Linked DNA regions of Homo sapiens: regions 1 and 2 are each linked to region 3. Evidence: fine-mapped expression QTL. Tissue or cell type: whole blood. Region 3 holds a variant in brackets; each other region holds the start of a gene. All regions are shown on one strand. Distances are from middle to middle.

The links. PIP is the estimated chance that this variant, and not a neighbour inherited with it, causes the effect.
Region 1: BTNL3 starts here. The variant in region 3 is fine-mapped to the expression of BTNL3 in whole blood (INTERVAL, PIP above 0.99).
Region 2: BTNL8 starts here. The variant in region 3 is fine-mapped to the expression of BTNL8 in whole blood (INTERVAL, PIP above 0.99).

Annotation. Positions count from the first base shown.
Region 1 is chr5:180,987,298-180,989,984 of GRCh38, reverse strand. It overlaps BTNL3 (butyrophilin like 3), which reads right to left and starts at 1,139. Exons shown (of 8, transcript NM_197975.3): 1 at 908-1,139. The coding sequence starts at 956. It also overlaps the pseudogene ARPP19P1.
Region 2 is chr5:180,897,982-180,900,668 of GRCh38, reverse strand. It overlaps BTNL8 (butyrophilin like 8), which reads right to left and starts at 1,510. Exons shown (of 8, transcript NM_001040462.3): 1 at 1,310-1,510. The coding sequence starts at 1,358.
Region 3 is chr5:180,936,113-180,938,799 of GRCh38, reverse strand. The region is part of intron 3 of BTNL8 (butyrophilin like 8); the gene reads right to left. Among named protein-coding and RNA genes, the nearest start is that of BTNL8, 38 kb to the right of the region's middle. The variant T/C (reference allele first, on the strand shown) is at 1,380.

The DNA of each region.
Region 1 (2,687 bases), 51 kb before region 3:
TTTCACCATGTTGGCCAGGCTAGTCTCAAACTCCTGACCTCAGGTGATCCACCCACCTCAGCCTCCCAAAGTGCTGGGATTACAGGTGTGAGCCACCACGCCCTCTGAGCACACATGGATTTTGATCCCCTTATTTCTGTTTTGTTGGCTTTGTTTAGCAAAACAGTCATAGGTAGACAAATAGCAGGATGGAACTGTTCCAGACAGAAAGTGAACACAGTCAAATGAACTTTTTGTGGCTTAACACTGACCACCCAGAATCCAGTGTTCTACTCCAGCCCCTATCTCTCCCTGCAAAATTTATTTGATTACTGAATATCCTATACACCAGGCTTTGTCTTGATGGTTACTAGAAGGAGAAAGAAGAGTGGGTTTCTGCCTAGACTATGCCAGGTTCCAACTTACTCCTCACTTAAAGGTCTGGTGCTCTACCCCATAACTACAGGTGTTTCTAACTCAGCATGTGCATAACTGGACACATTGTCTTTTTCTCCAAACATCCTAAACAGTGCCACCTTCCACCCAGGCACCCAAGTCAAAAACCTGGGGATTTTATTAGAGACTTCCCCTGCCTAAGCCCCACAGCCCACCTGGGGAGAACAATGTGTTTACCTTGGCGTTCTCAATGTGTTCCCTCCCTGCTCCCAGGGCCTGCTCCCATTATTCTGAGCTACTGTGATAGTGCCCAAGTCCTTGAGAAACAGCCCAAGGAGTCTTCCTCAATTCCTGCTGCCCTGTGCTTCCCACAGCTCCTGGCATTGGTAGTTTCCAGCCTGAGGCCAGGAGAAGCTGGAGAATGCAAGCACCAAAGATTCCTGCATCTCACTGTGCTGAGATCATTGTCATGAATGAACTCAAAATATTATTCAACAAGGAGAAAAACAACAGTCCAAACTGAAAGGCTTACCTGACACCAGCTCGTAGAAACTGAGAACCAAAATGAGCACAAAAGCCATGGATATTCCTGTGGGTTGATCTCACACTATGAAAACAGATGACAGCAGGGGTGGATGGATGATTTGGAGGTCAGGCCAGCTGTCTCAGGCGCAGGAGCCGTGGAGAGGCTCTTCATGAACGATGTCAAACTGTGCATTTCTCCCTAGAGCCTCCCTAAACATGGCTGTATGAATGAGGAGTATGGGCACTGGAGTTTGAGTCACTGCATTTATTGGCAGGTCATAAACATCTATCTCAGACCAGAGAAATGATAATGGAAAGAGAGTAGGGTACACTTGGAGGGACTTTGTTCTGGGTTGTGCCCCACATAGGTGGTAAAGGAATGCCAGATGCAGAGATATTTTCAGGCTTAGTCTGGCAGGCAGAGCTGCAAGAGAGAGTGAACATCTGTCCCTGAAAGAGAGATTGGACGGGCGCAGTGGCTCATGCCTGTAATCCCAGCACTTTGGGAAGCCAAGGCAGGTGAATCACGAGGTCAAGAGATCGAGATCATCCTGGCCAACATGATGAAACCCCGTCTCTACTGAAAATACAAAAATCAGCCAGGCATGGTGGTGCGCACCTGTAGTCCCACCTACTTGGGCGGCTGAGGCAGGAGAATTGCTTGAACCGGGAAGAGGGAGGTTGCAGTGAGCCCAGATTGCACTACTACACTCCAGTCTGGTGACAGAGTGAGGCTCTATCTCAGAAAAAAAAAAAAAAAAAAAAAAAAAAAGAGATCATCTCAGCACAGGGTAGTGAGGCAGTGAATTTGCCCAGGCACACAGGCCATGCCCCATGAGACTCATATTTCCTGGCACAGCATGAGGTAATTCTGCCCATCCCTCCCTTGTCTTGAGTTCAGGGACAGGACTCTGATCATGAGGCCAGATTGTGTTGAACTTGCCAGAACAACCAGGACCTTGATCTCCAAGGATCCAAGGTATTGAGAAGGGGACCAAGACGATGTTTCAGGCCCGGGGGTAAGGCAAAGGCAAAGATGCATTCATTCAGTCATTCATTAGATGCACTAAGCCAGGACACACACAGTTAGGGATTATGCAGTGATTTCAAGTCTAGGGACATGCACAAAGAATAAGCACTTACTAGATCAGAAAGCAGGTTTCCACGGAGAGCACCACGAAGGACAACGAAGGTAAAGAGCAATTTAAAAAGAGGAAACCCCATGAACTTAGAAATTGTTAATAACACAATTTTAAATAACTAATGGGTCTAAGAGAACTAATAATAGAAGTTGAAGGTAATTAGACTAGAAGAAGAATGAAAACACTACATTTAAAATACTATGATGCATGTAAGGCAGTTCTTACAGAAAGGCTTATCCTTAAGTGCTTGTATTAGGAAAAAAGAAGTCTGAAATTGGCTGAACAAAGCATCTGAGTTAATCAGAGTTAACTCTTGGATCCTGAGGGTCTCTGGCCACTCGCCTTGTCTTTTCTCTCCCTTCACTTTTCTTTTTTTTTCCCCCACAATCTGTAAACATGTAATCCTACCTTAAGTACAAAGCCATTACAAATGCAAAAAAATCAAAGATTACAAGTCAATTTCTTTCTGCCTACAGTAATAGCTGAAATGTAAAGAGATCAACTTCAGAAAAAAATACATTGAAAAACATACCACTTTAATAAGACAAAACTGCAAATTAGATGAATAGAAATTAGGTAGATCCATTTATTTTTTAAATACAAGTATAATTTTGGAAGAGCTATTTGACAAATTCAGCATTAACT
Region 2 (2,687 bases), 38 kb after region 3:
GGCCCTTGTCTTAGGTCAGGTTTGGGGACCCAGCGTATGCCAGCTGGGCTGCTATGGATGCTGCCTTCAGGGCTGTGTGGGGCTCTTGAGGCAAGGAAACATTTTTCAGGGTACCTCCATTTCTCCGGCCAGCCCTTGCTGCTGTCACCTCTCTTGCCTATAACATCTCCTTTCACTCCTTCCACTTCCTTCCCTTGAAAATAAGAAAGGAACAAGACTGTTGCTGCAACATGCCATGCACCCGTGCAGCTGTGTGCACTCTACATGCACAAGCTCATGCAGTCCTCACCACAGCCCCAGCAGGAATGTGATCGTATCTCCATGTCATCATAAGCAAACCAACACCTAAGGAAGCTGTGAACAATAAAGCTCACAAGAAAATGAAATAAGAGTTTTTAAAAATAAAATGTTTCTGTCTCCAAGATCATTTCCAGGATGTCCTGCTGCCTCACCCGGAAACAGAAGGGAAACAAAGAAGCTCGTCAGAAAATAAATGAAAACAAACTGAAACGAGAGCGTCTCCTGTTAGTAACACATATGGGTTTTTGTTTTAAGGAAACATGCTCTATGTTTTGATTGCCCTTATTTCTGTTTTCTTAGCTTCATTTAGCAAAAAAGATATAGGTGGACAGGTGGCAGGATGAACCTTCACAGACAGAAAGTGAACACAGTCAATCGAATCTTCTGTGGCTGGGTACTGACCATCTAGCCACCAGCATTCTACCCCAACCTCAAGCTTCCTCTGTGAATTGTATTCAGTCACTCAACATCCTATATACTAGGTTCTGTGTTAACAGTAACTGGAAGGAGAAAGAAGAGTGGATTTCTTCCCAGAATATGCCAGGTTTCAGCTAATTTCTCACCTCAAGACCTGTACACCTTCCTCCACCCTCGTGTCTCATACCACAGACATTTCTAACTCAGCATGTCTTTAGCTGGATACATTGTCTTTTCCCCAAAAATCCTAACTGTGTCTCTTCCCAGATGGACATCCATGTCAGCAACCTTGGTGCTCCAATAACCCTGCCTACACCACTCAGCCCATCTGGGAGAAACACTGAATTTATTCACCTTAACACGTTAGGTGTGTCCCCGTCAACGATCACGGTGCGTCTTCAACACCCGTGTTTCCATTATTTGGGGGCTACTATAATTGTTTCCACAGCGCCTGATCCTTCCCCAGGCTGAGGCTAGGAGAAGCCAAAGGAATGGAAACGACAAAGATGCCTTCATTCCATTATGCTGCAACCATTGTAGCTAAAGAACTCAAACTGTTAGTTAGTAAGGAGGAAACAAAGATGAGTCTTACCTGATCCCAGCTTGAGGAGACTCAGAACCAAACTGAGCATGAGAGCCATGGATGTGTTCTGTGAATGGACCTCACGGCATGGAAACGGATGACAGGAGAGGTGACGGATGGATTAGAGAGAAGAGGAGAACTGGCCTAATGCTCAAGGTGCGGAAGCCACGGAGAGGCTCTGCGTGAGCGGAGGGCAAACTGCGCTGTTCTGAGAGTCTACTCCATCGAGACACAGCTGTCATGTACCAGAAGTGTAGGGACTCTAGACTTTGAACCACTGCATAAATGTCTATATCTTATCAAGGAAGCAAAGATAGAAATAGTGTGGATAAGATTGGAGGTGAACTTTGTCCTGGGCAAAACGATGCCCTGTGTGGGTGAAACAGGAATGTCAGATGCGGAAATACTTTTCACGTCCAATCTGGCAGGCAGGGCTGTATGGCCATGGGATCTAGTCCTGAAAAACCTCATGTTAGCACTGGATAGTTTGGTGTCCAAGTAAATAGGCCATGCTCCATTAGTAGTAGCCTACAGCAGGTGACTTGACATTTCCTGGCACAGTCTGAGGTCCTTTTGCTTACCCCTCCATTCTCTGAAGTTCAGGGCCAGGACTGTAATCATGAGGCCAGATAAAAATAACTTTCCAGAACAAAACAGATCCTTAGTGTTAAACATCTGATACATTGGGAAAGGTGCCTGGGCAGGTTCAGACATGAGGAAACTTATTTATTATATAAACTAAGTTCCAGGGCAGCCACAATGAGAGATTTGCAGTCTTTTTAAGCACACGGAAACTCACAAAGTCACCACTTAACTAGATCAGAATGAAAATTTCCACAGATAACCATCAAAATAAACATACTCTAATCATAATGCAATTAAAATTAAAAAGTAATTCAAAAACATAGGAAACTCTATACACTAAGAAATTCTTATGTAACAATTTAAAACAACTCACGAGACTAAATCACAATAAAAGTTAGCATCTAGAATAGGACAAAATGAAAACACTGCATTTAGTCTAAAATCTAGAACACTGACAACACCAAATGCTGGTGAGGATGCGGAGCAACAGGAATTCTCACTGATTGCTGACAGGAATGCAAGACGGTACGGTTGTTCTAGAAGACAGTTCAGCAATTTCCTGCAAAATTAAACATACTTTTATCACCTAATCCAGCAACTGCACTGCTTTTTATTCACCTAAATGACTTGAAAACATATGTCCACATGAAAAATTGCACATGAATGTTTATAGCAGCTTTATTCATAATTGCCAAAAATGTTTGCAACCAGATATCATTCAATAATGATACATAGAATGTATACACAAACTATGGTACATCTATACAATGGAATATTACTCTGTGATAAAAAAAAAAAGGAA
Region 3 (2,687 bases):
CTTTCTCTCTTGGCCTGTAAGATTTCTGTTAAGAAATCTGCTGTTACCATCCTGACCAACATGGCGAAACCCCGTCTCTACTAAAAATACAAAAATTAGCTGGGTGTGGTGGTGCGTGCCTGTAATCCCAGCTACTCGAGAGGCTAAGGCAGGATAATCACTTGAACTAGGGAGTCAGAGGCTGCAGTGAGCCGAAATCGTGCCAGTGGATTCCAGCCTGGCGACAGAGCAAGACTCCATCAAAAAAAAAAAAAAGAAAGAAAGGAAGGAAGGAAGGAAGGAAGAAGGAAAGAAATCTGTTGTTAGTCTGATGGGAATTCTCTTGTACGTAGCATGACACTTTTATCTTGCTCATTTTAGAATTCTCTGTTTGTCCTTTTGACAATTTGACTAAAATGTGCCATGTAGAGGACCTTTTTGTGTTGAATATTTTGGAAACTTTTAAGCTTCCTGGAACTGGATGTCCACATCTCTTCCAGGACTTGCAAAGTTTTCAGCTATTATTTTATTAAATAGGTTATTTACACCATCTCTCATCTCTTCTTCTGAAACTCACATAATATGAAAATTTTTTCACTTAATGGTATTTCATAAGTCCTGTATACTTTCTTCATTCTTTTTTCTCTTTCTTTTTTTCATCAGACTGGGTTATTTCAAAATACCTGTCTTCAAGTTCAGAAATTCTTTCTTCTGATTTATCTCCTGTATAAATTTGAAAGGAATCAAATTTTATCACTATAGTAATCCATCAAATGGCAATGTTTTTATTTCATTCATTGAATTCCTTAGCTCCAAGATTCCTGTTTAGCTCTGTTTTGTAGTATCTGTCTCTCTGTTGAATATTTCTTTTTTTTTTTAAATGGGGAAAGGGGCTTTTAAAAAGTATTTCATTTAGATGAAAAATTGTTTTCCTGATTTTGTTAAATTCTCCATTTCTAGTCTCTTGTGTCTCACTAAGTGTTCTTAAGATCATTATTTTGAACTCCTTTTCAGGCATTCATAGATTTTATTTTCCTTGGAGTCTGTTACTGAAGAATTACTGTGTTCCTTTGGAGGTGTCATATTTCCTTGGATTTTCATGTTTCTTGGGTTCCTACATTGATATCTGCAAATTTGGTGGAACAATAACCTCTTCCAATTTTATGGAATAACATTATATATAAACCACCTGTTAGTTTTGTTGATGTTTTCTTCTGTTTTTCTACTCTCTATTTCTGCTCTAATTTTTGTTATTTCAAACATTTTCAACTTGGGGCTTCTTTTTTTTATTTTTCTAGTTCCCTGAGGTGGAAACTTTTATAGGCAAAGATGTTTTCCTGTAGATGAGTCCTATGGTGTTGGTTGGATACGTGGGTGCTGTATTATATTAATAATTTCCA[T/C]GTAACTGCTTCAGCTGTAATCAACATTGGAAGTACCTTCAAGTGTGTCAATGTTGTAGGCTGTGTGTAGTTTTGGAGGCAATGGCACAGCTTTGCAGGGAGCTGGGGCCACCAGCTAGGCTGGTTTTTAGGCAAGGGCAGTGCACACCAAACATGACAGCTCCACTGGTCACTTGGTCCCAGGGGTGTACCAGTCGAGGAGGCAAGGTTACTAGAGGTGCCAGGTGCTGAGTGGGCCAGTACCTGGAGTCCTAGACGATGCACGTAGCATGCAGCAGCTCTGCAAGTAAATGAGATATGGCCACCATCAGTGGTGGACACCAAATGGGCTGTTCCTGAGACTCCTGGGGGGCTGCGTGCAGCATGTAGTCACTCTGCCAATCAAGGATATGAAGTCATGGCAGCAGGTGCTGAGTGCGCCAGTCCTTGGAACCCTGGGGGATGCAGGCAGTGTGTGGTGCCTCCACTGTTCCAGGGGGTGGTATTTCTGGTGGGAGCAGATGCTGGGCAGGCTAATTCCCAATTCCTGGGGAACATGTGTGGTGTACAGCACCTCTGACAGTTGAAAGTTTCGGCTCACTGGTGGTCTGGTCACATGTGACTCCACAAGTCCTTAGATCACTGGAGTCACATGTGGCAGGCAGCAGCTCCACCAATCAAGTGGTCAGGGTCACTGGTTGAGGGGATGGAGTGGCCAGTGGCAAGCTTCAGCTGTGTTCGTCCACAATTCCTGCAGAGCACACTACGGCAAGCGGCAGCTCTGCTAGTCAAGGACATCAAAACAATATTAATTCTTCCAATTATGAACACAGGATAGTTTTCCATTTGCTTGTGTTTTCTTCAATTTCTTTAATCAGTGTTTTATAATTTTCCATAATTTTAACCAGGTCTTTCATCTCTGGTTAAATTTATATCTAAGTACTTTTTTGTTGCTATTGGAATTGTTTTCTTAATCTTTTTCAGATAGTTTTTCATTAGTGTATAGAAATGAAACTGATCTTTGTATGTTGATGTTGTATCTTTCAACATTACTAGACTTGTTTACCTTTTCCAATACTTTTTTGGCTAAGTCTTTAGGATTTTCTATATATAAGATGATGTTATTACTAAATAGAGACAATTTTACTTTTTTCTTTCCAATGTGGATACCTTTTCTTTCTTTCTTTTGCCTAACTGTGCTGGTTAGGACATCCAGTACTATGTTAGAAAGAAGTGCCGGGGCGGTGGCTCACGCCTGTAACCCCAGCACTTTCGGAGGACAAGGCAAGCAGATCACAAGGTCAAGAGATCGAGACCATCCTGGCCAAC